Linked DNA regions of Homo sapiens. The protein of the gene in region 3 interacts with the protein of the main gene of each other region in a biochemical or structural test. Each region holds a gene or a part of one and is shown on either strand. Other genes may lie near its edges. The genes, in order: NMNAT1, MACROH2A1, PARP1 and CTSB.

Region 1 (4,601 bases), about 220 Mb from region 3:
AGAGAATAATGGGACCAGGCACCACTATGACAGGTCAAAAACCCTATCTGGGCAGAGCGTGATGGCTCACACCTGTAATTCCAGCACTTTGGGAGGCCAAGGTGGGCGGATCATTTGAGGCCAGCTTTGCCATCACGGTGAAACCCTGTCTCTACTGAATATACAAAAATTAGCCAGGCGTGGTAACACACGCCTGTAATCCCAGCTCCTTGGGAGGCTGAAGCAGGAGAATTGCTTGAACCCAGGAGGCAGAGGTTGCAGTGAGCCGAGACTGTGCCACTGCACTCCAGCCTGGGTGACACAGCAAAACTGTCTCAGAAGCAAACACACACACACATACACACACACACAAACACAAAAGTTAATTATGGCCCATATCACCTTCTCCCTCGGATTCCACTGTTCTAGTTCCAAGGAATTGCTAACACTGGGCAAGTTCAGCCTAGTCCTTCCGTGAGGACTGAATACGTCGGACTCATCTCCATCAGACTACCACAAACTGTTGTTGAAAGCTTTATTTGTCCTCACTTAGGGTAAATGAAAAATTTCAAGATTTGGCTACAACTTCATTCTTTGAAAAGTAATATTTTACAGAAAGAGAGATTAGGGGTACTGGCTCTGAAGACAAAGCTTAGATTCAAGCTCAGCTCACCATTTATACCAGTCCCCTGATTTTGCCGTTTCCTTATGATATAAGGCACTCAGGAGCACAAGCCAAGCACACAGTAAGTGTTCAGGAAGTGCTGACATTATGAAGTTCAAACAGCACCACTGGTAAACGAAGTTCAGATTTCAGAGGTGGAGACTGTGTACGCAGCCTCACAGCTGAGTGGATGCCGTGGTGAAATGTTTAGATCATAGGCCTTTGAGAAAAATTATGAGAATGTTAGAGGAATGGGCCTCCGTTGGCACCCAGAAATAAACGTTAAAGGAGGCTATTTCATCATATAACAACTTCTGGACTTCTAGAAAAGTGAAAAGAGAGGCTTGGGTAAGGAAGATGAAAGCCCTCCCACCACCCTGCATGCTGACCTAGGGCATCCTTCCTTCTACTCTGTTGTTAGATCCTCATGATGGCCAAAAAAAAGCATTCTTTAACCTAAACCATCCCCATGGCTCAATCTCTACCCCTTCATCACCAAGGAAAAGCCACTTCTCTTATCTGAAAGGCCTGCTGTTCACATAAGCAAACACTACCACAAAGGCTCTCCATCATCCGAATGAAGATGCCAATCAAGGACTTTTACTGCAGGTTTGTTTGCCACTTTCAAATTACACAATGTAAGGGGTAAAGGGTACAACACATAAAACCCCCAGCATCAAACAAACAGGCCAAACAAAACACCAGCATCACACATTTCCTCTAAATTGACAGTACAAAAGCAAATTATGGAAATGATGCAGGAGGGAATAAACAATGGCATATTTTCTTCACGTCAGTCATTAATATTTATTCCCCTGTGAAATTCATTGTTCTAACTTCCATTATTCAAAGTGGAAGTTCTGTCCTTGAGGACACCCAAAATTATGCTATTACGTGGCAGCATCAACAGCATCCTCGGCGTTGGGAGAAAAAGCCAAGCTTGTTCTCTGTACAAAGCTTGTTCTTTGTACAAAGTTGTTGCTCCATAAATAGTGCAACAATAGGATCAGGCTGGGTGCAGTGGCTCATGCCTGTAATCCCAGCACTTTGGAAGGCCGAGGTGGGCAGATCACCTGAGGTCAGGAGTTCAAGACCAGCCTGTCTAACATGGCGAAACCCCATCTCTACTAAAAATACAAAATTAGCCGGACATGGTAGTGGGTGCCTGTAATCCCAGCTACTCAGCAGGCTGAGGCAGGAGAATTGCTTGAACCCGGGAGGCGGAGGTTGCAGTGAGCGGAGATCGCACCACTGCACTCCAGCCTGGGAGACAGAGTGAGACTCCATCTCAAAAACAAAAAACAATAGGATCATTGTACCCTTACCAGGGCTCCTGCAAGGGTCCCCACATGCCTTGTCCAGTGAGGTCCTGAGGTCAGTAGTCACAGCTGAGCAGGGCACAGGCACTTCTGAGTAGGAAGGCACGATAGTATGAGAGAAGTTTCCAGCATTGGAAACTTTCTGCAGTTTACGTGACACTTCAGATGAACTAGGTGTAGTTTCCCAGAGGAAGTCCAAATTCAGTTCTGATAGCTTCATCTTGCTCTATCATTACTTTTCAGGACTCCTTCAACTCTTAAACTCCAAGAAGCTAAGGAGGAGAAAATGACCCTCATCTGTATGATTTGAGGCTCCAGCCTTTCACTAACTTGGCAGATGGATCCTGAAACCTGCTAGCTGTCAGGCTTTTTTTTTTTTTTGAGATGGAGTCTCGCTCTGTCACCCAGGCTGGAGTGCAATGGCACGATCTTGGCTTACTGCAACCTCTGCCTCCCAGGTTCAAGCGATTCTCCTGCCTCAGCCTCCCAAGTAGCTGGGACTACAGGAGCCCACCACCATGCTCAGCTAATTTTTTGTATTCTTAGTAGAGATGGGGTTTCACCATATTGGCCAGGCTGGTCTTGAACTCTTGACCTCACGTGATCCACCCACTTAGGCCTCCCAAAGTGCTGGGATTACAGGTGTGAGCCACCACACCCGGTCTTTTTTTTTTTTCTCTTTGAGATGGAGTTTTGCTTTTTTGCCCAGGCTGGAGTGCAGTGGCACAACCTTGGCTCACTGGAACCTGTGCCTCCCGGGTTCAAGCGATTCTCCTGCCTCAGCCTCCCAAGTAGCTGGGATTATAGTTATGCGGCACCATGCCTGGCTAATTTTTTGTATTTTTAGTAGAGACTCCATCTCAAAAACAAATAAACAAACAAAAACTTATTTTAGCTTACCATTGATTTTTACTAAATTTTTTTTTTTTTTTGAGACAGAGTCTTGCTCTGTCGCCAGGCTGGAGTGCAATGGTGCAATCTTGGCTCACTGCAACCTCCACCACCTGGGGTCAAGTGATTCTCCTGCCTCAGCCTCCCAAGTAGCTGGGACTACAGGCACGTGCCACCACACACAGCTAATTTTTGTATTTTTAGTAGAGATGGGGTTTCACCATATTGGCCAGGATGGTCTCGATCTCTTGACCCCGTGATCCACCTGCCTCAGCCTCCCAAAGTGCTGGGATTACAGGCGTGAGCCACTGTGCCCAGACGATTTTTACTAAACTTTTAAGCTTTAGTTTAGGCAACAGATCACAACTTCTTTCCCCAGTTATTAACTCCCAGATTGTTTCAGATCCCCAAATGGGAAGTCTGAAATATCATGCTGTAGAATTCCTATGTCTTAGCTTCTGCAGTGTTTCTCTGCAAAGGGGCCAGGATGACCCCAGCATTCCTGTCTTCACTCTCAGAGCTGTACAAATTATGCTTTTCAATGTATTCTTGGACAAGATCTGGTACCAAGTAGCGAATGCTCTGGCCCCTTCTGAGGGCTCTCCGGATTTTTGTGGATGAGATGTCATTAGCGATCCATTCATTCACCACGTGAATGTTGCTCCGGTGTTTCCACAGCACATCCGATTCATAGATAAACTTCTGAGCATCATTTCCAGCCCGAGTAACACATATGAGCCCATAGTTGGCCACGATTTGGGTGATGTCTTCACTCTTCCACAAATTGGGAACAGCAAAGGACTCCAATAAATCTGCCCCACACAGCAGCTTGACCTTTGGCACAGCTGGGAAGAATAAAACAGAGCTTTGGGGTATGCTTTTTCTTCCCCTCTACCTCCTCCAAGTGGAAAGGGGTTTACTTTTCTAATAACCCACTGTATCAAAATGAAGATACGTATGTGCTTTTCAAGGATGAGGGCTTAGGCCGAGTGCGGTGGCTCTAGCCTGTAATCCCAGCACTCTGGGAGGCCGAGGCGGGTAGATCACTTGAGGTCAGGAGTTTGAGACCAGCCTGACCAACATGGTGAAATACCGTTTCTACTAAAAATACAAAATTAGCCGGGTGTGGTGGCGCACGCCTGTAACCCCAGATACTTGAGAGGCTGAGGCAGGAGAATCACTTGAACTCGGGAGGCAGAGGTTGCAGTAAGCCGAGATTGTGCCATCGCACTCCAGCCTGGGCAACAAGAGCAAAACTCTGTCTCAAAAAAAAAAAAAGAATGACAGTTCACAGTTTTTATGAGCTTTTATTTTATGAGAATCAGATTCCCAAAAGAGACCCAGGACACCTCAAAGATTAGAGACCACTGCAGGAGAAATAAGCTCCAAGTGCCTTTTATTCTCCTTCACTTCATGCAACTAACAAGGGGCATTTTCCAGACACCCACAAGTATGCAATATAAAATGAAAATAAAGGCCAGGCATAGTGGCTGACACCTGTAATCCTAACACTTTGGGAGGCCAAGGCAGGAGGACTGCTTGGGGCCAGGAGTTCAAGACCAACCTGGCCAAAATAGTGAGACCCCATCTCTATAAAACAAAAAAAATAAGGCCCAGGCGCTGTGGCTCACGCCTGTAATCCCAGCACTTTGGGAGGCCGAGGTGGGCGGATCATGAGGTCAGGAGATCAAGACCATCCTGGCTAACATGGTGCAACCCCGTCTCTACTAAAAATACAAACAAATTAG
Region 2 (9,960 bases), on a different chromosome or scaffold from region 3:
AGTGCCATTTGCGATTGCTGCCCTCCCCTGCAGACAGAGCGGGCAGCTGAAACAGCACCAGAGGTGAGGAAGGCAGAGGAAAACTTCCTGACAAGGAAGATATTCGGGCACTGAGTTGGGTTGGTGGGTTAGATTAAGGTAATGTTTGCTAAGAATCATAGCTCCCCTGTGTTATTATGTATAATGTAAACTTATTTATTTTTTACTTTGAAATAGGGCTGAAAGTTCCAGTCAGTGGAACTTACTTTACAGATTCCCAAATTAAGCTGCATTTCCATCTTATTGGGAGACTTTGTGGGAAGGCAGAAGACTGGACCAAATGCTGTCTCTGAGACCCCTGGCTCCTCCTGGACTTTTCGGAGGAGTCTGCAGTGGGCTTAACAACAGTAGAGGAGTTTGTGTCAGGCTTGGAACCATCTTTGGAATACTACTTTCAATCACTGCTGTAGGTTTTATTTTCTCTATGGAATTCTGGTTCCTTTGAGGCCCCTGGGACAAGCAGATGGAGAGCTTTGCTGTGGCCCAGAGCTCCCAGCTGATGGCTGGGCAAGCTTCAGACCCTGCCACTCAACCTCCTGAAAAGGTGGGATGGGGGCAATGGATTCTGGGATGCGGCTGCAAACACTCAGAGCCACCAAGGGAATTGGAGGAGGTTGTGGTGTGGTCAGAATGCAGGAAGCTCTTAGCAGTCACCTTCCGATTGGGGTTGATTGGGTTAAGGCCTTCTGGGATGGTGTAAAACAGTTCTGAACTCAAAGGACTGCTGATGGAAGGATGATGAATCGAAAGAAATACAATAAACAGATTCCTTGTCATGTTGTTGGCCTTGTAGCAAACATGTTTTCTCCTTGGGATTACGTGAACATTTGCTTTTCTTTGATTTCTGGTTGTTATTTTCAGTATTTCTTTTGTTAAATGAGCTCTGTTTTACAGAGCTTCAGACAGCTCCGTTAAAGCCCCTGACTCTTTCCTATTGCAAGGGTTGTGTTTAGAGTTTGGCTCAGCCTCAACACATCACCTGTTAGCTGTTAGGAGTCTAATTCTGCAAACCATGACTTCATCTTGCTGAAGGAAGATAGACAAAATGCTTCAATACAACAGATATGTTTTAGTTCAAGACATTTGGAAAAAAGAAAAAGGACCCTAAGCCTTTCGTCTCTGGGTGGACTTGCAAAGTAGACCTGTCAAAGGTATTCATGTTCAGACGGCTGGTCTGTAGTCAAAAAGGCTGCCAAACCATGCTGTTATCCAAGGATGTGGGAATTTTGTCAAGCGGCCTTAAAACAGTCATGTTCAATGAAGCTGGGGAACGTTTGGCCCAGGATGTCCCTGCAGGGCTTGCAGCTCTGAGGAGAGGGAATATGGTTGCATCATCTAGGCCACTACAGATGATGGTGCCAGCCACTCACTAGTTGCCAGAGACTGGCCCTGGCCAGGAGTGAGAACCAGAGGCTTATGTGTTTTGAAAAACAAAAATCTTAGAAGAGTTAATGAGCTGGCCAGTTTGCTCACCATTCAACTTGTTCCCTTTGCACCATTTATAATTGGGAACTTTACCACACTTACAGTCCTCTTCAGAGCAGACCCTAAGCGCCTTGGGCCCCAAATCAGTCTAGTATTGGTCATTGGTAACAAAACTTAGACTGTCACCGACTGAGAATACTTGGCTTGATGGGGTGGAGAACCTGGTAAGGGGTTCTGTTTCTTCTCCTAATTGTTCTTTTCCGTTTCTTCCTGTGGTTTCTTATGGATTCCATTTATTTTGGTTACAGCCTCCAGGCTGTGGCTCCTGAAAATTTCCTTCAAGAGAGAATCCAAGGGCTGAGCTCTGGAAACTCTGGAGAAAAGGATTTTTGTGTCCATAGATCTGGTGTTTTCCTGGTTATCTTTCTCAGAATCGCTTTTCTTTTAGACCAGCCACAGACAAAACAGAGACTCACAAAACCTTCCAAAACATGAAATGAATTGAGTGCAAGAACCCACCCTCCCCCTTGTAGGAAGGCATCGGCTCCATTCACTTTGAGGCAGAGGCTTAAGTTGGCTCTGTTCTAGCCTAGGAGAAAGCCCTCCTTGCTGGTGGGAATGTGAGGGCCATCCCAGTGTGCATGGGGGGCAGGCAGGCATTGCTGTACAGCCCTGAGCCTGGGGCCTCCATGACTTTGCCCTCCATATTATTGCAAAGCAGAGGATCACTTACAGGGAAGAAAACTACATCAGGACATCTCCTTTGGTGACGTGTGCCCTGTCCCAATTCCTCAGCAGTCAGTCACCCTCTCCGCTCCCCCCTGAATAGGAACATGCCCTGGAGAGCAGATGGGAACCGTTCCATCTTGTTGAGTTGCTGGCATTTTGCACCTCTGCTGTCTCTGCAGCAGGCAACTCTTTCTTAGCCAGGAAAGCCCTTTACGATGGCTTTTTCTAAACCTGGACTAAGGATGAGAGGGTGAGTATTACTGATGGTTGGCAGGGGATGAGTGTGTATTCTGGGTTACTGCTTTTGTTAAGTCGGGCACCCTCCATTTTCCCTGGCCATGGTGAAATGCCCCGGCCCTCTGCTGCTGCAGCACAGGAGAGGGGTGGGACACTGAATATACTTCTCATAAAAGGTGTGTTTCTGAGGTGCTCTGTCTTGTGTGTCCCTTAACGATGGGGTTACTATGGTAACTATCCATCTGAAAAAAATGCAAGAGTAAACAGAAGATAAAGCTCTTGCTTAACTAGCTGGAAGGTGGATCTGTGCCCCTCTTTGTTATCCCTACTTGACACAGCTCCCTCCTCCCTACCCACAGGGCTGAGGGCCCACCCTATGGTGGTAGGAGTATGGAGAGGCAGTAATTTTGGCTTGTGCAGATAAAAGATGAGCTGGGGTTTTGCAAAAAGGAAGAGTCTTGGATTCTGGGGCTCCTTGGTAAAGAAGGCAACAGAATGACATCCCTGCCCAGCTCTTTCTAAGGAGCTGAGATGCTCCTCCTTCTGCCCCTCCTTATCCACCTTGCTACTCACTGTCACTTACAGGTTGGTCCAGTGTGGCATCCCTGATTCCCAGTTGAATAGCAAAACATAAGCATGGTCCTTCAAGTTTCTCTAATGGAGAAACTGAGGCTACTGAACTTTTCAGTCACAAAGTAAGAGCATAAAGGGGTAAAGCTTGCGAAGCCAGGGATAATGTCCTCTAGCTCCTGGAGAATCCATTTTCAGGTTTCTCAACCCGATGTGCTTACTTCTGGGCTACTCTGTTGCTTTCTGTTCTTTACATACTACCTGCCCTCACCCAAGTCAGGGGCCCAACCACACTCTTCAGGTCTTTTTATCCATCATTCTCATTTTTCCTGCACAAAAAAAAAGTGAAGGCAGCACTGCAGAAAATATAGACCACATCCCTCCCCTCCTCCCCGACCACCAACGGCCACTGAGCCTTCTCTCAGGGAGGGCCTTCCTCCAACGTTTTGGGCAGGAAGAGGAAACAGGCCACCTCCACTTTCCTGAGAAACTGTACCTTCAAACGATTTTCTTGCCAAAGGGTTGGGCTTAGGACTTAGCAAAACAGGTCACCACTGTGGGCATTCTCCTTCTGCCTCCCTTCCTCTCTGTTAATGAGGGGGCAGATAAAGCATTCTTGGCACATTATGGTCAGAAGATTGTAATCCATCAGCCTCCTCCTGTATATTCTGGCTCTGCAGATACCGATGGCCCAAAACTTCGTTGTGGCCTCCAAAAGGGGAAGGTTGTGGAAGGGAGGGGAAGCCAGCAAAGTGGGCTACAGCTCAGTGGTGCTTGATATGCCTCTCAGGCCTTCCTGCCGTGAGGATTCTGCCCAGCACCCATCGTGGCTGACTCTCCTTCATGTTCCATTGCTCCCAGGCTCTGTGTTCTTGTTGGGCTTAGACTCTTGGTTTGGCATCCTCTTGGGCCGTGGGCAGGACAGTGGCATTACGGATGTGCTCTCCCGCCCATGAACACAGGAGAATGAAGGCCAAGCTGGGCTGGCCAGGCAGGCGCTTCTGCATTCACAGTACCCAGGGCCCAAGGTCACATAGGCATCACAGGCACCTTTTTGGCTTGGCCAAGGTGGGCCCATCACTGCTGGGCATTGGGACACTACCACGATCAATGATAGGGAAGCTTCAGTGAAAATGCTGGGTGGCCATCTCCCTCCTCCACTGGTAAACTAAACTGTGCTGACACTGGTACAGGGAAGGGAATAGCGTTGTGGAGACTGATGGGTGAAAGTGGGAAATGTGAGCCCCTCCACCAGATTCCATGTAAGCACTGGCTATCTTGCCTTCCACCCTGCCTTAGTTTTGTGGCTCTCACATGTATAAAGCCCAGGTAAGGGACCCTGTGGCATTCTTTATCACTCTCTGTATCACTGGCATGTGTAGCCCTGCAGGCCTGGGAACACTGAGAAGACAGGGGCCTCCTGGTGCCTTGGGTCCCTCCTGCCAAGCACAGAGTTGTGTGTCATCAGTATGGTGATTACTGAGCAAAGGAATTCCTGCCTTGGATTTAGGGGGAAACCTGCTATTTCAAGTGTGTCTGATCTCCTCCCGCCCCTGCCCCCAAAGCTAATATGAGAGTTTCCTTGAGTAGCCAAGCAATTTTTCAGCTTTACACACATACAGCAGGTTATTTGCATTGGGTGGAGCTGTTAGTACCTCTTAAAAATGCATGCCCTGTGTCATACCGTAAATTTTTAACACACGATTTTTATGCAGCTAGAATTTTCTTCCTAGTTATTTCATAATGATTCTGAGTGCTGGTGTTGCTGGAGAAATCTAGTGTTTACAACATAACTAAATATTAGAAATTCTTTAGTACTGGGAGGAGGTCAGATTTGAGTTGGGCCCAGAAGGGTAGCCTAGAATGACATCCCAGTGTGGGCAGAATTGCAGAAGTGGAGAATATAAGATCCATTCTGGGTCTATCCGTATGCCTCACTAAGAAAACAAGGAGACAGTGATGAGGTTGACAGGTTACCAAGAGAACTGTAATGCCAAGGAGAAAACCAGGTTTTGCCAAAGGGTACTTCCTAGTTCCCACCATCTTTGGTGCTGTGGAAAACCTGTCTTGTCTTGTGAGACTGTGCCCAGATGGCAGGTAAATCAGCTCTTAACTTAGTACTAACTATGGGTTATGCTCATAGCCCTTCTAGTTTTTATTTTCTTGCATACATTTTATTTTGAAAAATTTCAAACATACAGAATGTCAAGAATACACTGATTTCATCACCTTACATATTTGTTTCCTTGTGTTAAGAACTTTTAAAATCTATTATTTTAGCAATTTTTAAATATACATGATTGTTAACTATAGTTACTATTCTGCACAATAGATCATTAAAACTTCTTCTAACTGAAACTTTATGTCCTTTGACCAACATTCGCCCCGACCCCACCCCCAGTCCCTGATTCCACATAGAAATGAATTCATGCTATATTTGTCCTTCTGTGCCTGGCTTATTTCACTTAGCATAATGTCCTCCAGGTTTATCCATGTTGTTGCAAATGACAGAATTTCCTTGAAAGAGGAATGTTCTTATAATCATATACCTAGATTTAACAACTGTTAACATTTTGCCATATTTGCTTTATTCCTTAGAGCTTTTTCAGAATGGAGGGCAAGTTGTAGGCATCAAGATGCTTCACCCCTAAATACATCAGCATGTATCTCCTAAGAACAAGGATGCTCCCTACAGAATGGCAATACCATTATTACACTTAAGAAAATAATCCCGTGTGTCTGATACCCAGTCCACATTCAGAGCTCTTCAGTTGTCTCCAAAATGACTTTCCTAGCTTTTATTAAAAGAATCAGAATTTCATCAAGGAGTGACACATTATATTTGGCTTTTACATCTTTTTCACCTTTTGAATCTACAACAACCTCCCCCCACACACACACACTTTAAAAAATGTATTTGTGATGTTGACTTTGTAAAGAATCCAGTCACATCCTTCCAGTTTTGCATCCAGATGTGCAGGCATTCAGCATTGATGTAATCAACAAAGATTTAACAGGCCTCCTCAATAGCAAGCCATCCTGTCCTTGAAACTCTAAGCAGGCATGGTATACTCTCAGGGACCACACTGAGGACTTTGGGTTTGGCCCTGGTGACATCTGCAGTGCTAACTGCAAGCACCCTTTCTGGGAAATGAGAGCTGGAACTGGGTTCAGATCTCAGCCCTCCCACTCACTCACTCAGTGATCTTCAGCTGGTCCCTTCTCCCTCAGCTTCAGTTCCTTCATCTCCCAAACAAGGGCATTGGACCTGGGGCTTCCTAGGTCCCACTCAGCTTTGCCATTCAGCACCTCTGTGACTCTGCCCACAGCTTTTCACCTCAGGGTAGCTGCTTCCTGAAGCAGCTGCCTCTGCCCATTCCTGGCACTGTGAATGTGGGGACCGGGGCGGGGACACATGGTCCTCTAACATGACCATACACTCATCTCTGCTCCCCACAGCGGAGATTCTGGAGCTGGCTGGCAATGCAGCGAGAGACAACAAGAAGGGACGGGTCACACCCCGGCACATCCTGCTGGCTGTGGCCAATGATGAAGAGCTGAATCAGGTATGGGCCTCTCCCATCTCCCACTGATGTTTGAGCAGGTGGTCATACTGCCCAAGAAACATAGCTGAGAGGCTTTGGTGTTGGCTGGTTATGAAAGGTGTGGACTGCCTTTTGGATTAATTAGCAGCTTCTCTGCCTCCCATGGCAGTTTTTCCCCAAGGCCTTATTGGGAGTGTTGGGGGAAGCAGGATAATACAAGGTATTTGGCTCTCCCGAAAGGAGAGAGATGATCTAAATTCCATTTGAGTGAGGGACTCTGGGGACTGGATCCCTGAGCAGTGAGCTTGAGTCCTGGCAGCATCCTCATGGAGGATGCCATGGAGGAAGGAGCTGCACCAACCCAAAGCAAGACTGTCCTGGGCAGGGCTGGCTTCTTGAAGGTTAGAAGCAGGGTATCTGGCTCACTATCTGCTATTCTGGTTTTCCTGAAAGCTGCTAAAAGGAGTCACCATAGCCAGTGGGGGTGTGTTACCCAACATCCACCCCGAGTTGCTAGCGAAGAAGCGGGGATCCAAAGGAAAGTTGGAAGCCATCATCACACCACCCCCAGCCAAAAAGGCCAAGTCTCCATCCCAGAAGAAGCCTGTATCTAAAAAAGCAGGAGGCAAGAAAGGGGCCCGGAAATCCAAGGTATGTGATTTGGCCAGAATGTATGAAGTGGGATAGGATGGGGTACGGATAAACAGGGTTACCAGGGCACCCCCCTCATTCCCCCTGTGGGCTCATCCCACTGATGGGAGAATAAAGGAGGAACATGTAGGAGCTGATTACTCTCCAGAGGGGCTAGTCCAACACAAGTAGCCAGAGTCAGGAGGCCCTCCCAGAGTCTGGACCCAGTTGAAGGACAGAACCTCTGTAGGCAAGGGGGATGGGTGGTGGGCTTTCAGGGATAGTGTCAAGCTGGAAGGACTCCCAAGCTGGCCCTTCCAGGGAGATGCACACACCTGTGGGAAGGGGGCTTCCCTGTGTTAGGGGACAGCCACTGTCTAGTCCTGTGGCCAGCTACCTGCATGCCCTGATGCTCAGTTGCAGAACTCTCATGTTGCCATGGCTGCATGTCTTCCATCAGGGCGCTCTAGACAGTTCACTCCAGAATGGTTGCCTCTGTCAAGGAGGAAAATGGATGTATTACTCAGGTGCTTCTTCCTGGGCCTAACTTGGATTGGCTGGGTCCTAGGTGCTGGAAACCCTCTCATTAGTGTTATCTAATGTCATCTTGGGTGGAGAAGGCCAGCAGACTCCAGGTCATGATCCTCAGTGTGGAGGAGCACCCTCCGGAGGTCCAGGCCTGTGATTGCTGTGCTCACCTGTCTGAGCATGAGCTGGAGACTACAAGGCAACTGGGATACATTTTCTTTGTTCCTTCTTTGCCCAGTCCTACTTGTCAGCAGTTGTCACAGCCTCCAGAGCCAACAAACAATGGACAGTGCCACCAAATCTTGGTCTCTAAGAAAATGGAATCTTGAGGCTGCCCTGCTCTGAGGTACCCCTTAAGGAGTCCTCCTTCTGGCCTCCAGCCAGATCAGGAGGAAATTACCCATGGCAGAAGGTGACCTCTGTATTTTGCAAGACCCTCAATAAGAAGTCCTGGAAATGCATCTGTGGAATCTAATGATGCAGTGTCAGGAAGTTCTTCCTACATGAGCCCAAATCCTCTCACCTGAGTGAGACAGTGAGGACACCTTCCCAGGACAGGCTCAAGGAGCTGTGACCAGGTGAACAGAGCTCCTCCTGTCCTGTCAGCATGTCCTCTCCTTTGAGCCTGCCTGTGCCTCAGGCAGACTGGCTTTCACCCGCATGCAGGGACATCTTCTGTGAACCCCAACCTTCTTGCATCCACACTGTTTGTGGCTTTTAGTTGAGGTGAAAGAGGCTGTATTTCTTTGCATGCACAAAATCTAAATTCCTCTTGCCAACATGCCACCCACCCTTAGGCCCAGAATCACTCCCAGCTCTTTGAGAGAGAAACCCAATATTGAGGAGTGTCCTATAAGTTATTTCCAGACACTTGCATTCCATCTAGCTCACAAGTCCTGGAAGAGGCTTGAGGCCAGGCAGGGATTTCACAGAATGCGCCACTGCTCATTCCTGCTAACTATAGAATTAGCAGATTGGAAAGTTTCTTTTTCCCTTTCAACATATGCATTTGGGAGGAGGGCGGGGAAGGGAAGGCAGGAGGAAAGTGCTTGTGCAACCCTTTCTAAATGTTAAAAAGGCAACGAAGATACTGAATCTATCATCTTTTGATTATGAGCCCCAGAGACCTGGCTGCCCACAGAGCAGGGCCCTTGGTGCTGAGGACCAGCAGGGGCAGGACCACGTCCTCAGCTTAGCCTTTGCCCTGGCTGTGTCCTGAGCCATCACCCTCCTTCATGCGTTCACTGTTGATACTTGAGTGGGTCTCTCAGATGCCAGTGTCTGCTGGCAAACCTGGGCTGAATCTTGTTCCTGTTACTCTAGTCTTCCCCTAGTAGTTTTTGTTCTATGACTTTCTGAACTTTCCAATTTAGTAAACACTAGGAATTCATCTTACTTTTTGGACTTGAAGTATTTGGAGTGGGGGTGTCTTTAGCTCCTAGTAGCTATATTTGGAACTTAGTGTTTCTAATAACCATATGCCAATAATCACTCGACCACTCAAATTTCCCTTGATTACAAAAGCAGGAAGCCTGTTATGGTGGTCTGTTTTTCTTCCACACAATAAAACACATTGTCTACTTACTGTACCAGTATTTGGCTAACATTAAACCCTGGGGGAAGCTGAAATTGGAACCGTGAACAGCTAATTTTCAAAACATTTGTTTAATGTAAATTGTGGTGTCAGCTCCCAGAAACAGCAGAAAAGCCTGCATCTCTAGGTTTAAGTGGAATGTTCTGAAAATAACCTTTCCAGGGACATGCAGAGAAAGCCTTAGTAACATGCTAAAGCACTTGTAGTGAGAGTTGGTATTTTTCAGGTGTCAACACTTGAATTCCAAATCATAATTTTTCCCACAATTCTACATAATTTGGAGGTTTTGAAAATCTCCAATTGTGACAGCTGAGTCAGCTGTAGTGGAAATGGTTGGAGAAGGCAACAAACTGCACCAGGGGCTGGGTGTCCAGAGCCTGACTGTACACTAGGGCTCCTCTCTACTTGGGTGGCTTCAGGCAAGTCTGTTCCCTCTCTATGCCTCAATTTACCTCCATCTATAAAATGATCAGGTCCATTCCAGCCTTACAATTCAGTAACCGTATGCATATTACATAATGTTTTTGAGTAGGGCACATGTATGAGTTTGGACAAAAGAGTATGCAGTAAAAAAAATTTTGCTCCCACTGTAGTCCCTCACCCTACTTCTCCCCAGGGCACACTCAGTGAGTTTTTATGTCTCCTTTCAGAAAGTCTGTGCAT
Region 3 (5,863 bases):
AAGTAACACTGATGAGCTCATTCCGTCCTCATGGCAGCTCCATGAGACTGTGTTCCCCATTTGAGAAAAGAGGCAAGTAGAGTCCAGAGAGGTTACGTAGCTTCTTGCAGCTCCTTGGCACCTGGCAGAGCTAGGATCTGACAGCCTGGCTTGTGAGCTAAAACTTTGGTATTTCCTCACCATGGGCATTGTGAGAATTAGAAGTGATGGATTGCAGCACTTAGCTGGGTGGCTTGCTCAAGTTGGCACTCAGTGAACAGCTGCTCCTAATTTCCCATCAGAAGATTCTCAGCTCTCCCTTTTCCGACCTTCCAGACAGGCTACATGTTTGGTAAAGGGATCTATTTCGCTGACATGGTCTCCAAGAGTGCCAACTACTGCCATACGTCTCAGGGAGACCCAATAGGCTTAATCCTGTTGGGAGAAGTTGCCCTTGGAAACATGTGAGTAAACCTGGCTCTGGGACTGATGGCATTTCATGGGGACAGGTGGAATGGGCTATAGGCAGAACTCCCCTTGGCTGGGAGAGTAGAAATTCCCCACTGCAGTTACTGGACGCACCAATTAGGATTCTTTTCTTATAAGTAGCAGAATCCAATTCAAGTTAAGGGAACAAGGGAGATACAAGGATACTTCAGGAAATGCAAGGGCAGGAACGCAGCCAGGCCTCCAGAGCTGGCAGTGTCTTCTCTCCATGGACTGGGAAGCAGAGAGATTGAGTTGCACAAAGGATGATCCCCCAGGCCGCCTCCTCCACTCACCAGTGTTTCAGTTTTCTTAGACCAACCCAAATGGAACTGGAATTTTAATTCCACTTCCAGATTCTCCATAGAGAAAGATCTGATTAGTCCAGCTTGATTTGGACATCGACCCTAGTCCTGTGAACTGTAACCAAAAGCACAAGGTCATGTAAAAGGCCAGGGGTCTGGGGACTGTGGAATGTGGACGGAAACCTAGAGCTGCTGACCACCACTCCAAATAGGGCCTTGCCTTGAAAATGGCCCCATAGCAGTGATCGCTGGGCACAAACTATGTTCAGCCGCAACTGCAGTTTCAGGTTCTGGAACAGTTCCAGAAACTCAGGAGGGAGCCTGAGCAGTTTAGATGGTCTGGGTTTTGTGGACTTTTATCTCATCTCTGTATCTGATCTTATTCTCCTAATCAAACTGTTGGTTTCGAGAGCCCAGTGTGAAGGCCTCTTCTGAGACTGTCCTCTTTTGAATAGGTATGAACTGAAGCACGCTTCACATATCAGCAAGTTACCCAAGGGCAAGCACAGTGTCAAAGGTAAAGTGTTTCCAAAGCTGTTGCTACAGCCCGAGGCACCCTGGACAGCACAGAAGCCGGGGGCTTGCTGTCCTGAGAAGGCTGCCTTGTGGCTGGCTGTCAAACAGCTGGAGATTCATTTTATCTTTTCGAGGGGTGTGTGTGCGTTGTTGTTGTTGTTTGGGGGGTGGTGGTGGTGGTTAATATGCTGCAACTGACCATGATTGGAGGTTCATTTTATTTATTTTTGTAAAAAAAAAAAAAAAATAGGCAAGCTCTATAGCAGGAGGTTCATTTTTAAAAACAGTTCACTCTCTGTGGCTGCAGCTGGTATCACAGATGCCACAGGAGAATCTTGGTGCAGGCACCAGTAACCAGATGCACGGGTTTCGGCTTTAACCTAACTTGTAGCTACAGCAGTGAGGGACCTCTCGTGACATAGTAGTGCCTGGAGCATCTTGGATTGCTAGAATTTGCAGCATATGATTTAGAACCTTCCACTGCCTGGTTGAAGTGGCCGCTTTGAAATTCTATTGAGCCGAAATGTGATCCTGTAGGGAGGGTACTGCCACTGTTCTCATTAAACTCAGTGAAGGTTGATGCCCTGGGAACTTTGGTTTATTGCCTTAGTTTTATATCTGAAGAAAGATAGAGCATGTCTTTAAAATGAGCACATGAGGCTGGGTGTGGTGGATCACCTGAGGTCAGGAGTTCGAGACCATCCTGGCCAACATGGTGAAACCCTGTCTCTACTAAAATACAGAAAATTAGCTGGGTGTGGTGGCGCGCACCTGTAATCCCAGCTACTCAGGAGGCTGAGGCACGAGAATTGCTTGAATCCGGGAGGCGGAGGTTGCACTGAGCTGAAGTCACACCATTGCACTCCGGCCTGGGCGACAGTGAGACTCCATCTCAAAAAGGAAAAAAAAAAAAAAGAAAGACCACATGGACCCAACATCAAATAGAGCTCATCTCCCTGGAAGCTTTGCCACATCTGTACTCACAGTTCATGTCACTTGTGACTTCTGTTTTTCAGGTTTGGGCAAAACTACCCCTGATCCTTCAGCTAACATTAGTCTGGATGGTGTAGACGTTCCTCTTGGGACCGGGATTTCATCTGGTGTGAATGACACCTCTCTACTATATAACGAGTATCCTTTCTTGAGTATGCTGTGTGAGCACAAAGGGATGTTCTCGAGCTACAGAGTCACTTATGTGCTGTCAGATTACCTGGGGCAGACAAGGATTAGAGGCTGTCCTGTAGTGTGTCCCATGGTGACTGTTTCCCTTCTGTGGTCCCTCCCTGTGCATAGCCTGGCTTACAGGGTATGAGCCTTCCCCCAGTTTCCAGAGGATGATCTCCTCTCCTCAGTCTGCCTGAAGAAGACTTAGAGTAACTTTCAGGCTGGCATTGAGCATCCTGCCAGCCCCGGGGAGATGAGGCAACCCAGCCCCATGAAGAGGCCTTAGAGTGACTTTCAGGCTGGCACTGAGCGTCCTGCCAGCCTGGGGGAGATGAGGCACATGTACATACCCTCTGTTGTATGGCTGTTGGCTCCTTAACAAGCTTCCCCTCAGGTACATTGTCTATGATATTGCTCAGGTAAATCTGAAGTATCTGCTGAAACTGAAATTCAATTTTAAGACCTCCCTGTGGTAATTGGGAGAGGTAGCCGAGTCACACCCGGTGGCTCTGGTATGAATTCACCCGAAGCGCTTCTGCACCAACTCACCTGGCCGCTAAGTTGCTGATGGGTAGTACCTGTACTAAACCACCTCAGAAAGGATTTTACAGAAACGTGTTAAAGGTTTTCTCTAACTTCTCAAGTCCCTTGTTTTGTGTTGTGTCTGTGGGGAGGGGTTGTTTTGGGGTTGTTTTTGTTTTTTCTTGCCAGGTAGATAAAACTGACATAGAGAAAAGGCTGGAGAGAGATTCTGTTGCATAGACTAGTCCTATGGAAAAAACCAAGCTTCGTTAGAATGTCTGCCTTACTGGTTTCCCCAGGGAAGGAAAAATACACTTCCACCCTTTTTTCTAAGTGTTCGTCTTTAGTTTTGATTTTGGAAAGATGTTAAGCATTTATTTTTAGTTAAAAATAAAAACTAATTTCATACTATTTAGATTTTCTTTTTTATCTTGCACTTATTGTCCCCTTTTTAGTTTTTTTTGTTTGCCTCTTGTGGTGAGGGGTGTGGGAAGACCAAAGGAAGGAACGCTAACAATTTCTCATACTTAGAAACAAAAAGAGCTTTCCTTCTCCAGGAATACTGAACATGGGAGCTCTTGAAATATGTAGTATTAAAAGTTGCATTTGAAATTCTTGACTTTCTTATGGGCACTTTTGTCTTCCAAATTAAAACTCTACCACAAATATACTTACCCAAGGGCTAATAGTAATACTCGATTAAAAATGCAGATGCCTTCTCTATTTGTGTATTGCGTGTCTGGTCTCATTCTGACTACAGATATGGTTAATCTTCACAGTGCAAGGTCCCAAGAGACTTTGGGGGGATTGTTTCTACCCTTAATCTGTGAAACCCCAGAACGTGCCAGGCAGCAAATAGCATTGCTTAATGGGAATGCCCCACCTAAGGGTGGGCCAAGCACCAGGCATAGGAGACACTTTTTTTTTTTTTCGGCTTATCAGATGCATTGTGGTGATGAACTCATCCTGCTCTCTGGAGGACTGCCTTTCATACACCACATTGCCTTGTACAACTGCTCTGCATTTGAGAATCATACTTAAATGTTTACGTTTCAATTGCCTGAAAGCAGGGCCAGTGTCTTATGTCACCTCTGACCTTTTACGGAAGGGGACAAGTGAGGTAGTAGCTCACACCTGTAATCCCAGTGCTTTGGGAGGCCGAGGTGGGAGGATCATTTGAGGCCAGGAGTTCAAGACCAGCACCTTTGACCTGGAGACCCTCTCTCCTGATCATCCAGCAATCCAGGCTGTTCGGCTCTTGGGCTCCTGAGTATTCTGCACTCTTTACCTTTTTTTTTAATCAGCACAGAGAAAGGCAATTACCCTCACAGTACCTGATGAAATAAGTATTTTTAGGTTGGAGTGATTACTTAGTGAGTTCCCTGTAATCAAAACTGGTTTCTTTTTTTAAGGAAGATTCACATTTCTCAATCTATTTTCCTTTCAAAAGAGAGAAATTAGCACTTTATGTTTTAGTATACACATTCTGCTTTTCTCCCTTCACTTTAAAAAAATTCAAGTCCTGGCCGGATGCAGTGGCTAACACCTGTAATCCCAACATTTTGGGAGGCCAAGGCGGGCGGTTCACGAGGTCAGGAGATGGAGACCATCTTCGCCAACTGGTAAAATTTCATCTCTACTAAAAATACAAAAATTAGCTAGACATGGTGGCGCTCACCTGGAATCCCAGCTACTCAGGAGGCTGAGGCAGGAGAGTCGCTTGAACCCGGGAGTCAGAGGTTGCAGTGAGCTGAGATCATGTGTGGCAACAGAGCAAGACTCCGGTCTCAAAAAAAAAATTCAAGTCCTATCTCAGGGTAGCAACTAAAATGTGAGAATTTCGTTTAAAAATTAAAGCCAACCGTGAACCTGGGGTTGGAGCCTGCAGTGAGCCGAGATCGCGCCACTGCACTCCAGCCTGGGCAACACAGCGAGACTCCGTCTCAAAAAAAAAAAAAAAAATTAAAGCCAACCTTGCATAGAAACTCGGGGTGCTCCATGAGAGAAGAGAGAGGTATAGCCCTCTGCCCCTCCTGGTGAGCTGCCCTCCTCCCGCCTTTGTGCCTGGAAGTGCCCTTGGCCAACAGTAGTTGCCCAAGGCAGTACTGGGCTCACATGTCAGAGCACACTGTTGCACACAGTGGTGCATGCATACATCTATAAAAGATGCGCTGCGTACACAGTAGTGTTTTAGCCAATGTGCTAGCCAATGAATTCTGCATCAGTGGTTATCTCTTGCTACACAAGAGGTGAAGAACCATTCCTTCAAGCGTCCCAGAGCTCTAAGGCGAAGCTGCTATAGAATGATTTGCCTAGAACTTTGCCTTAGGGCAAACCTCAAGTACTGCTTTTAGGAATGAAATCTAATGGTGGCCTTGTCCCTGGTGCGGGCATAGTATGTACTCAGTGTTAATTGTTTACACCAAAAGCCTGGAAGCTGCATTGTCTTTTGGCCTTCAGAAACCTTGTATCTTAACTGTTAAGATCTGAACATTGGGAATCATTCACCTCTGACCTGTTGGGCTGGTTTTATTCCGCTCTATAAAGTACACCCAGGTGCTTTAGGAGTTCGCATTTCTCAAAGTGGTGTCATTGCCTTTCCCTTAAATTCTGTTTTGACTCCTCAGAGATTGGTGGTTGCTTTTTTGAGGCATAGTGTTTCCACCATTTCATCAGGCAGGGCCTGCCAAATTGAGTCTAAGTTGAGGCCATTGAGGTTTAGGGAGGTCTGATACAGTGCTTAGCATCCCACTGCCCCCTCACTTCTGCCATTCAGCCTCAGCATGGAAGGTTAGATGGCAGCTTCCCTTTGGCATGTGCCAAATATGCCCATTTGTATGGCTTAAGAGGTCAATGTTGGTTTTCTCATTTCTCTTTACTGTTCTCTAGAG
Region 4 (9,960 bases), on a different chromosome or scaffold from region 3:
CAGGCAGCAGTCTCTACGTCTGGTCCCAGGCTGCCTGAGAAAGAGCATGTGGGAGGCAAACCTTGCGCCCTGGCATGGTTGTTAATGTTTATATTTACCCTAGCTTGTGTGGGGTAGGAGGTTTAGGGATCAAATTCCACTCTGTGTTTAGACATTTTTTTCTTTCTTTTTTTTTTTGAGACAGTTTCACTCTGTCACCCAGGCTGGAATGCCGTGGCACAATCTCAGCTCACTGCAACCTCACCTCCCAGGTTCAAGCAATGTTCCTGCCTCAGCCTCCGGAGTAGCTGGGATTAGAGGCATGCACCACCATGCCTGGCTAATTTTTGTATTTTTAGTAGAGACCTCAAATGATCTGCCCGCCTCGCCTCCCAAAGTGTTGGGATTACAGGTGTGAGTCACTGTGCCCAGCCATGTGTTTAGACTTTTAACTAATCTCTTTTTTAGTTTCAAGCCTTATCGTCCGCCTCTGTAGACCACTCCTGTGCCTGTTTCCTGATCCTTCCAAGGGCCATTGTATTCCCTGTCTGCTGCCCCTCTTTTGGATTCTTCTGCACATTTTTTTGTTCATGCATTCATTCATTTATTGTTTGATTAATGACAGGGTCTTGCTTTGTCTCCCAGGCTGGTGTGCAGTGGTGCGACCACGGCTCACGGCAGCCTCAGCCACCCAGATGTAAGCGATCTGGTTCCCACCTCAGCCTCCCGAGTAGTAAGTAGCTGGGACCACAGGCGGTGCCCAGGTTTTTTTTTTTTTTTTTTTTTTTTTCGTTGGTAGAGACAGGGTCTCACTGTTGCCAGGACTGCTCTGAAACTCCTGGTTTCAAGTGATCCCCTTGCCTCCTCCCACTTAGGCCTTCCAAATGCTGGGATTACAAGGCATGAGTCACCTCCAGGCCTTTTTGTACTTTTAAAACTCTGCATCAGTGTATAAACAATGTTATTAAAGTTTATATGACTTCAGTTACACTACATGGATCCTTTTTCACTCACGGTTGTGAGATTTATTTCTGTTGCTACATCCAGTTCTAGTCCATTTGTGTTAAGTGCCCAGTGTGTTTATCTACTGAGGGACAGTTATGTTATTTCGTGTTCACTATTATCCCATGCTACAATAAATATCCTGTGTCTCCCAGATACTTAGAAGAGTTTCTGCAGGGCACATGTGGGAGAGTTTGTTTCTGGGTCATGAGGTGTGTTCATCTTCCATCTTGCTAGATGCTGGCAAAGGGTTCTCCAGTGTGGTTGCATCAATTTACTCGCCCAGCAGTGTGCAGAGTTCCTGTTCCTCACATTTACCAACACTAGATAGTACCAGACTTTGATTTTTGCCAATCTGATGGGTTTGAAGTGGTACCCCTGTTTTAATTTCATGACCAGAAATTCAAATTTAATCTTTGCTGTAGGACAACAGTAACCCACTTATGCCTAGTGTTCCATTATTAGAACGCTAAGCATGTGGGAGTTTTTACATCATACTGCTCAAGGTCATCGCCAAGGTCTGATGTTTTTACTCGTGCAAAAATTTAAAAAATTGCAACCTCTGGCATAAATGGGTTGAGTGACACTTTTCCTGTTTTTATTGTTGGTCAGTGATGGCATATTTGCTGGGTTTTTTTGTTTTTTTTTTGAAACGGAGTCTCACTGTGTCGCCAGGCTGGAGTGCAGTGGTGTAATCTCGGCTCACTGTAACCTCCGCCTCCCGGGTTCAAGTGATTCTCCTGCCTCAGCCCCCTGAGTAGCTGGGATTACAGGCGTGTGCCACCACGCCCAGCTAATTTTTGTATTTTTAGTAGAGACGGGATGTCACTATGTTTGTCGGGCTGGTGTTGAACTCCTGAGCTCATGATCTGCCTGTCTTGGCTTCCCTAAGTGCTGAGATTACAGGCCTGAGCCACCGCTAGCCTATTTATTTTTTATTTTAAATTTTAATTTTCTATATAGAGACGAGGTCACTATCCTGCCCAGGCTGGTCTTAATCTCCTGGGTTCAGTCAATCTTCCCACCTTGGCCTCCCGAAGTGTCAGAATTATAGATGTGAGCCACTGTGCTCAGCCCAGAACTGATGTTTTCTAAATGCTGGGTGCTGAGAAGGATGTGTGGCTGGCAGTCTTGACTGTGTTATCTGTCTTTACCAGGCCAGTAACTTCTTTGGTCTGGTCATCAAGATAATCTAGCATCACCAGCAAGCATGCATGGAGAAGGATGGGCCCAATGTGGCCAAGATGGTAACGGGACCAGTAGAGAGCCCTGTAGAAGACATCTAGATATTCTGCCCTAAGAGCCCGGAGGGCCGGGCTGTCTCATGACCCTCTGACGTGCTGACCTGGACTCTGGCAGAATGTGCACACACACAGTCACACAGCTTCCTGGCTTGCGCAAGTCCCAGGAGGGCGGTGCCAGCCACAGGCTTTTCCCATTCGAGGGTTGGAAGCGTATCATCAAACCACATCAGAGTGCTGGGGGCCACCTGCCACCCATTCCCAACCCACTCAGCCTTCCTGGTGTTTGGGACATGCTTTGCTTTGGCAGTCAAGACAGCAGAACAAATCAACTTTTAAGGCCTTGTCACTGATAGTACAATTTCCATTATTTTTCATCCAAATTAGGATACTTCTGAAAATAGAAATGATGACTCTGGGATGCAAACGTTGGCTGTCCTATGTATAAGGAGATGGCTTTTCACGCTCCCAGTGACTGAGGAAGTTTCTCCCAGATGGCGCTGCTCTGAGCCTGGTGCAGGGTAGGCACTTTCAAAAGAGTGTCTCCTTGTATCTTCCATCAGCCTTGCGAGATGGGTATCTGTTCCCAGGGCCCCAAGGGAGGAAAACAGGACCTAGCTGGATCCAAGAGCTAGGCCTTTCTTTTTTTTTTTTTTTTTGAGATGGAGTCTGACTCTGTCGCCCAGGCTGGAGTGCAGTGGCGTGATCTCGGCTCACTGCAAACTCCGCCTCCCGGGTTCACGCCATTCTCCTGCCTCAGCCTCCCGAGTAGCTGGGACTACAGGCGCCTGCCACCATGCCTGGCTATTTTTTTGTATTTTTAGTAGAAACGGGGTTTCACCGTGTTATCCAGGATGGTCTCGATCTCCTGACCTCGTGATTCGCCCACCTCAGCCTCCCAAAGTACTGGGATTACAGGCGTGAGCCAGCATGCCCGGCCCAGAGCTAGGCCTTTCTGTGGCTGGCCTTCGCGTCAGCCTCAACTACCCTGGTGTAATCTCGCCTGCGGTTGAATTAGGGAACCGCCGTGTTCTGCAAGCTGGAGAGGCAGAACACTAATGAGCAGAACACTAATCTCATTGCAATCTCAAAGGATCTCTAAAAGCTTTTATAAAGCAGGCCCAAGGTCCTTTGGTATCCGATGCAGACGTGGTGAATGCATTGGCTCTGTCAGCATCTGAGCAAGTCAGTAACAGAAATGGGGAGTAAAAGCTTTCAGAACTTTCCAGAATATTGACTAAATTGTCTTGTTTACAACCAACAACGACAACAAAAAATAACTGCTGAGGGCCTTCGTAGTGTCTGCTGTTTCAAGTGTACAGTAGTCATTTTGTCTGCAGGATGTGGGGTTGCTGTGGCTGACCTTGTACAATATTCCACTCATAGGTGTCTTCAGGCCTATGGAGAGCAGCTTGCGTGGGCTGGGCCTGCAGTACCTGGTTTGCATAGATGATTGGCAGGTGGGCAGCACGGGGAAGGACCTGTGAGTGGCCAACCTGGTTCAGGTGAGGGAGGTGGAGTGGGGCTTCTCTGCTTCCCCTGGTTCCCTGGAAGCCTCCAAGGCTGGTGAGCATCACTGCTGCCTCTGCACACCTGTGTGCTGGGTGGGTTTTCTGACAGGTTTTCAGTTGCTTCGGGGCTACAGCTGCAGGGAGCCTGCTCCATGGGACAGATGGGCCTCTGGTGCCCGTTCATCAGGGGACTGATGAGACCGAGGCCTGAGAGCCCTTTGGATTTTGTTTTTGTCCTTAATTTAATCATAAGCCAAGAATCTACTAAACACAGTTCCATTAGGGGCAAAGACGTAACACATCAGAGGCCACAGCAAGGCTGTGATTCATACTCAAAAAGGAAAGGTCTCTGGGTCACAACAGAGCATAGTTGAGGTCAGCACACTCCCACCCAGTGCAGGGCTGCTCCAGCATTGAGGTGTGTCTGGCAGGTTGAAGTAGGGGAAGATGAAACTCGCCGAAGTCTTGTTTTGTGGTTGCACTTAAGTGGTCAAAACTTCAGGAGCAACTGCCGTTATTAGCGGTGAGTGCCAAGACTAGTTTTTATAGAAGAGAAAGAAACAAAGTACTCTGGGAAGGTCTTACTGAGCCTTCACAGTCTCCCCACCTTTCCACTGTTCCCGTGCTCTTAGCCGCTCTGCTGGCCTATAAGGCACAGTCTTCATTTGTGGCTTCTGGCAAAATGTAAGCACTTGACTTTTGTTTTTGTTTTGTTTTGTTTTGTTTTTTTGAGACGGAGTTTCCCTCTTGTTGCCCAAGGTGGAGTGCAATGGTGCGATCTCAGCCCACTGCAGCCTCCACCTCCTGGGTTCAAGCAATTGTCCTGCTTCAGCCTCCCGAGTAGTTGGGATTATAGGTGCACAACCACCACGCCTGGCTAATTTTTTGTATTTTTAGTAGAAATGGGATTTCACCATGTTAGCCAGGCTGGTCTCGAACTCCTGACCTCAGGTGATCCACCTCCTTGGCCTCCCAAAGTGCTGGGATTACAGGTGTGTGCCACTGTGCCCGGCCAACTTTCAATTCTTTAGAGCTGACTATGAGAGGAGCCAGCAGTATAGCCACAGCACCAACGAATGAGGAAGAGCAAAATACTGCATGACAGCTTTGCTAAGAATTCTTTCACTTTTTTTGTCTATCAGCCAGGAGCTAGCAACTTGGCTTATTTGGAAATTTTAAGTGTACATATCCTGTCTCCTTAAATCCTTTACAGATTTAAAGTGCAGTCTACCTGAGGGCTCTGTGACCATGTAAGAAAGCTTTTTCTTTCTTTTTTTTTCTCTGAGACAGAGTGTTGCTCTGTCGCCCAGGCTGGAGTGCAGTGGTGTGATCTTGGCTCACTGCAACCTCTGCCTCCTGGGTTCAAGCAATTTTCCTGCCTCAGCTTCCTGAGTAGCTGGGACTACAGGCAGCACCACCATGCCCGGCTGAGTTTTGTATTTTTAGTAGAGACAGGGTTTCACCATGTTGGCCAGGCTGGTCTTGAACTCCTGACCTCGTGATCCGCCTGCCTCAGCCTCCCAAAGTGCTGGGATTACATGCGTGAGCCATTGTGTCCGGCCTTTTTTTTTTTTTTTTTTTTTTTTTGAGACAGAGTCTCGCTCTGTTGCCCAGGCTGGAGTGCAGTGGTGTGACCTCAGCTTACTGCAACCTCCGCTTCCTGGATTCAAGTGATTCTCCTGCCTCAGCCTCCCAAGTAGGTGGGATTACAGGCACCCACCACCGTGCCTGGCTAATTTTTGTATTTTTAGTAGAGACAGGAGTTTCACCTTGTTTAGTAGAGACAGGCTGGTCTCGAACTCCTGACCTCAGGTGATCCGCCTGCCTTGACCTCCCAAAGCGCTGGGATTACAGGCATGAGCCACTGTGCCTGGCCAGAAAGCCTTCTTTATTGAGCTTGGTGGCAGCCCAAAACTGATTCTTTAAGGGTGTCAGGACTTAACACCTCCTGTGACTTAGCCGCACCTCCTCTCCTTTGACTTTCATTCCACCTCCTTCCAGGATCGCAAGGTCCCTATTTGTCCTGGAAACGGCTTCAAGGTAGTCTAGGGTGCCGTTTGCCGGGGGAGGAAGGTGCTCTGGTTGATAGAGTCGCCTGGCCGCACACTCTTTTTGGCACATAACAACGTTCTACAGAGCCGGGGTGGAGCGTGCTTTCTCATAAGTGCTCTGCAGGTTTGGAGAGAGAGGATATGAGGAGCACCCTTTTCTGTTTTTTTTAACCCAAAGATTAGCTTGGAAAAGGGGCAGAGGGGTGCACTGGAACTCAGGTCTGCCTAAGCAGCACAGCAGACCAAGGTCTAGAGATGACATCTGCTCGCAGCTGTTCTTCCACCAGCCCGCATCCTGGAAAGGGGTCTTGTGGCACACAAGAGTTCACATCCTTCCCTCGTGAAATAAGGACTTTGTGTTCATCATCTCTTGTAAGAAGCAGAGCAGAAAGCACAGAATTAAGAAATAAAAGGGAAGTGGGTGCCTATATAAAGGGAAGTGAAAATGGGTTGCTGTCCCATGCAAAGACCCTGGAAAGCTGTTAACAGCTCAGCTTGTCACTTTCACCATCTGCATTTGTCCAGAGTGATTGAGATTTGCGTTGTTGTGGAGAGAAAGGCGCCTGTTGCACAATGGAGTGAGATTGCCACTGCTGTCAGGACCTCTGTGTTTGGCTTGACACTTTTTGAGTTCTCAGCAGTCTCGGGACCCTCAAGAGTGGAAGCATTTTTGGATGTTAAATGCTGGGGTTAATTGAAGTTAAGAGCTTGTTTTACTGGGCATGGTGGCTCACACCTATAATCCCGACACTTTGGGAGGCCAAGGCGGGCAGATCACTTGAGTCCAGGAGTTTGAGACCAGCCTGGGCAACATAGCAAAACCCCATCTCTACAAAAAATACAAAGCTGGGCGTAGTGGTGTATGCCTGTAGTCCCAGCTCCTTAGGAGGCTGAGGGGAGCAGATCTCTTGAGCCCAGGAGGCAGAGTTTGCAGTGAGCCATGATCGTGCCACTGCACTCCAGCCTGGGCAACAGAGTGAGATCCTGTCTTAAAACAAACAAAAAAAACAAACTTGTTTTCATTTAGACTCTTCCTGGCGTTGGGGACCTATTGGAATAGGTTTAGTGTGAACTGAGAGCTAGAAGTGTTAGAGGAGAGAGGGAGGGAACAGAGCCCGCTGGAGCGAGTGCCCTTCCTACCTTATCACTGCATGCCAGGCATGTGCCGGCGCTTTGGTCCTCCTCATTTCATTCTTGACTGCCACCTGAGACACGATGGTTACTAGCTCCATTTTATAGGTGGTGAAACTGAGGCTTGGGGAAGGTCAGACCCCAAGGGTGCCATTTAGTCAGTGGCAGAGCCAGATCCAAATGCAGGTCTCCTGACTCCAAGTGCAGGGCTCATTTTATCGTCCGGTTGCAGCACGCTGGCGGCCCCTTGAGCCCCAACCTGGATACCATAGGGGAGGAGCAGAGAAGCCAGGAACACCACAGCCCTGGGCCAAGGTGCGGGGCTGAAAGAACTTCCCAGCGCTCAGCCTGGGACTAGTGGAATGGGCTGGGCCCTGGGGCTGGCAGCGGTGGCCCCGGGGAGCCTGGGAATGAGTAGGGAGCACAGGGAGGTGTGGGAGGGCCTGGGAACCATGAAAAGGAGGGCGGGTGCAGGGAAGTCGCCTGCTAGTGAAGTGGCGAGGGGGCCCTGTGGGACTCCAGGGAATGGCCACGGCAGGTTGTCCTCCAGGAGTTGAGAGCCACTGGACATGGCAGCTGCCTGTGTTCTCAGCCACCACAGTAACCAAAGAAATCTTGGTTTTAAAATTCAAGTTGCCATGGAAACGCTCCCATCCTCGACTTGGCTTATTATTTAAAATAACATCTCTACAGCACAAAGCCCCCGGGTACATCCAAGGACACTGCTGTCTGCCCACGAGACATGCTAACCTCACAGTGTGGAGGCTGTGTGGGTCACTGACATGCATGGCCACGTGAGACGCTGCCTACCCACGAGTCACGGAAAAGGGGAAGATTATTAAGAAAGTCACTAGGGGCCAGGTCCAGTGGCTCATGCCTGTAATCCTAGCACTTTGGGAAGCTGAGGCAGTTAGATCCCTTGAAGCCAGGAGTTCAAGACCAGCCTGGCCAACATAACGAAACACGGACTATACTACAAAAATTAGCCAAACGTGGTAGCACAGGCCTGTAATCCCAGCTACTCAGGAGGCTGAGGCACAAGAATCACTTGAACCTGGGAGGTAGAGGTTTCAGTGAGCCAAGATTGCGCCACTGTACTCCAGCATGTGCCACAGAGCGAGACTCCCATCTCAAAGTCACTAGGGAGGAAGCCTCATTGGTGGGAAGGAAGACCAAATTGGAAATGCTCTGAGGAATCATTAAAACAAATGTCCTTTTATCAGTTTGGTGGCTCAGGGCCTTTAGTAATACTGCCAACTATTTTTCCTAGAAGAAACAAAACTGAAATAATAGGAACATACTCACTTTTTTTTTTTTCTTAAAAGTAAGGGTATGTTGTGAAAAAAAGTCTCCCCACCGTAGTGACCGACTGCCGTGCATCTTCCTTGGCATTTTGCATGTAGTGGCAGGAGTGTTCCTACATGTGTAGATTGCTGAGAGGGTCAGATGCTTATGGTCCTCAGTCACCCACAGCTTGCTTTTTCCCCACTTAACATTGGGACTTGGGGCATTTTTACTCTGTTAATACAATAGAATTCACTTCAACTAGTTGGTTTTTTACTTTTATTTTATTATTATTATTTTTAGATGAAGTCTCAATCTGTCGTCCAGGCTGGAGTGCAGCCTCTGCCTCCTGGGTTCAAGTGATTCTACTGCCTCAGCCTCCCAAGTAGCTGGGATTACAGGCATGCGCCACCACGCCTGGCTAATTTTTTGTATTTAGTAGATACAGGGTTTCACCACCTTAGTCAGGCTGGTCTCTAACTCCTGACCTCAGGTGATCCAACCGCCTCGGCTACAGGCATGCGCCACCGTGCCCCACCAACTAATTGCTTTTTTAATGGTTGCTTCATATTCTATTTAACCACTTACCGTAATTTAACAGTTACTCTGTTATTGGATACTTGATTCATTTCCAGGACATGCAGATTTAGAAACTGGTGGGCGTTGCTGGTTGATGTCTCGGTGGTTGTGCCCACCCACCCCAGGCACTCATTATCATGCCTTCCGTTTCCCCACTTCCTAAGCCCTGCAAGAAGTGCCAAACTGTCCAGCCCTTGCCAATCTGATACATGCTGAATACCTCCTTGATTTTATCTGCACCTCCCTGAGGTTGAACTTATTTTACTTTATTTTATTTTATTTTTGAGGCAGAGTCTCACTGTCACCCAGGCAGGAATGCAGTGGTGAAATCTTGGCTCACTGCAATCTCCACCTCCTGGGTTCAAGTGAGTTGAAGCAATTCTCCTGTCTCAGCCTCCCAAGTAGCTGCGATTACAGGCACCTGCCACCACACCTGGGTAATTTTTGTATTTTTAGTGGAGACGGGGTTTCACCATGTTGGCCAGGCTGGTCTCAAACTCCTGACCTCAGGCGATCCACCTGCCTCAGCCTCCCAAAGTGCTGAGATTACAAGCTTGAGCCACCATGCCGGTTGAACTTATTTTTATCTGTGTTGGCCATTTGTAGTTTTTCTATTATGCTGGTTCCATTTTTCTGACTTTGAAGAGCCTTTTGTGGAAACGAAGCCTAAAGTATATGTGAGTACTGCTTTGTTTCGTCAGTTTTTGTTTTAAAGAGACTTTTCAGTGTAATGCAAGCATTTTCCCTTGAAGGCTGTGTTTCCTGTCAATCCTAAGCTTTCCTCCAGCATTACCTTTTTAAAAAACTTTATTTTCTATATTGATGGGGTCTCACAATGTTGTCCAGGCTGGTGTTGAACACCTGGCCTCAAGTGATCCACTTGCCTTGGCCTCCCAAAGTACTGGGATTATAGGCATCAGCCACCGCACCCAGCCTGTTTTTCAAAGGGCATTGATTTTTTTCATAAAACTTTTTAAATTAAGATCTGTGGGCCTGGTGCGGTGCCTCACGCCTGTCATCGCAGCACTTTGGGAGGCTGAGTCAGGTGGATCACGAGGTCAGGCGTTCGAGACCAGCCTGGCCAAAATGGTGAAACCCTGTCTTTACTAAAAATATGAAAATTAGCTGGGCATGATGGCACATGCCTGTAATCCCGCTGCTCGGGAAGCTGAGGTAGGAGAA

The links.
Region 1: the proteins of PARP1 (region 3) and NMNAT1 form a complex in vitro, tested with the Homo sapiens proteins (one study listed by IntAct).
Region 2: the proteins of PARP1 (region 3) and MACROH2A1 form a complex in vitro, tested with the Homo sapiens proteins (2 studies listed by BioGRID).
Region 4: of the proteins of PARP1 (region 3) and CTSB, one has a biochemical effect on the other in vitro, tested with the Homo sapiens proteins (one study listed by BioGRID).

The regions. Positions count from the first base shown.
Region 1 is NC_000001.11:9,981,398-9,985,998, reverse strand, and holds the end of NMNAT1 (nicotinamide/nicotinic acid mononucleotide adenylyltransferase 1), read right to left. Parts: exon of another isoform or gene 4,233-4,601; intron 3,699-4,232; coding exon 3,298-3,698; 3' UTR 864-3,297; coding exon of another isoform or gene 856-863; 3' UTR 501-855; downstream 1-500.
Region 2 is NC_000005.10:135,366,642-135,376,601, reverse strand, and holds part of MACROH2A1 (core histone macro-H2A.1), read left to right. Parts: intron 1-6,459; coding exon 6,460-6,566; intron 6,567-6,998; coding exon 6,999-7,196; intron 7,197-9,960. UniProt on the Homo sapiens protein: Variant histone H2A which replaces conventional H2A in a subset of nucleosomes where it represses transcription. Nucleosomes wrap and compact DNA into chromatin, limiting DNA accessibility to the cellular machineries which require DNA as a template.
Region 3 is NC_000001.11:226,358,523-226,364,385, reverse strand, and holds the end of PARP1 (poly [ADP-ribose] polymerase 1), read left to right. Parts: intron 1-315; coding exon 316-443; intron 444-1,225; coding exon 1,226-1,287; intron 1,288-2,302; coding exon 2,303-2,417; intron 2,418-2,844; coding exon 2,845-2,926; 3' UTR 2,927-3,695; downstream 3,696-5,863. UniProt on the Homo sapiens protein: Poly-ADP-ribosyltransferase that mediates poly-ADP-ribosylation of proteins and plays a key role in DNA repair.
Region 4 is NC_000008.11:11,855,128-11,865,087, reverse strand, and holds part of CTSB (cathepsin B isoform 1 preproprotein), read left to right. Parts: intron 1-604; exon of another isoform or gene 605-712; intron 713-2,609; exon of another isoform or gene 2,610-2,743; intron 2,744-3,608; exon of another isoform or gene 3,609-3,727; intron 3,728-7,147; exon of another isoform or gene 7,148-7,230; intron 7,231-9,960. UniProt on the Homo sapiens protein: Thiol protease which is believed to participate in intracellular degradation and turnover of proteins. Cleaves matrix extracellular phosphoglycoprotein MEPE. Involved in the solubilization of cross-linked TG/thyroglobulin in the thyroid follicle lumen.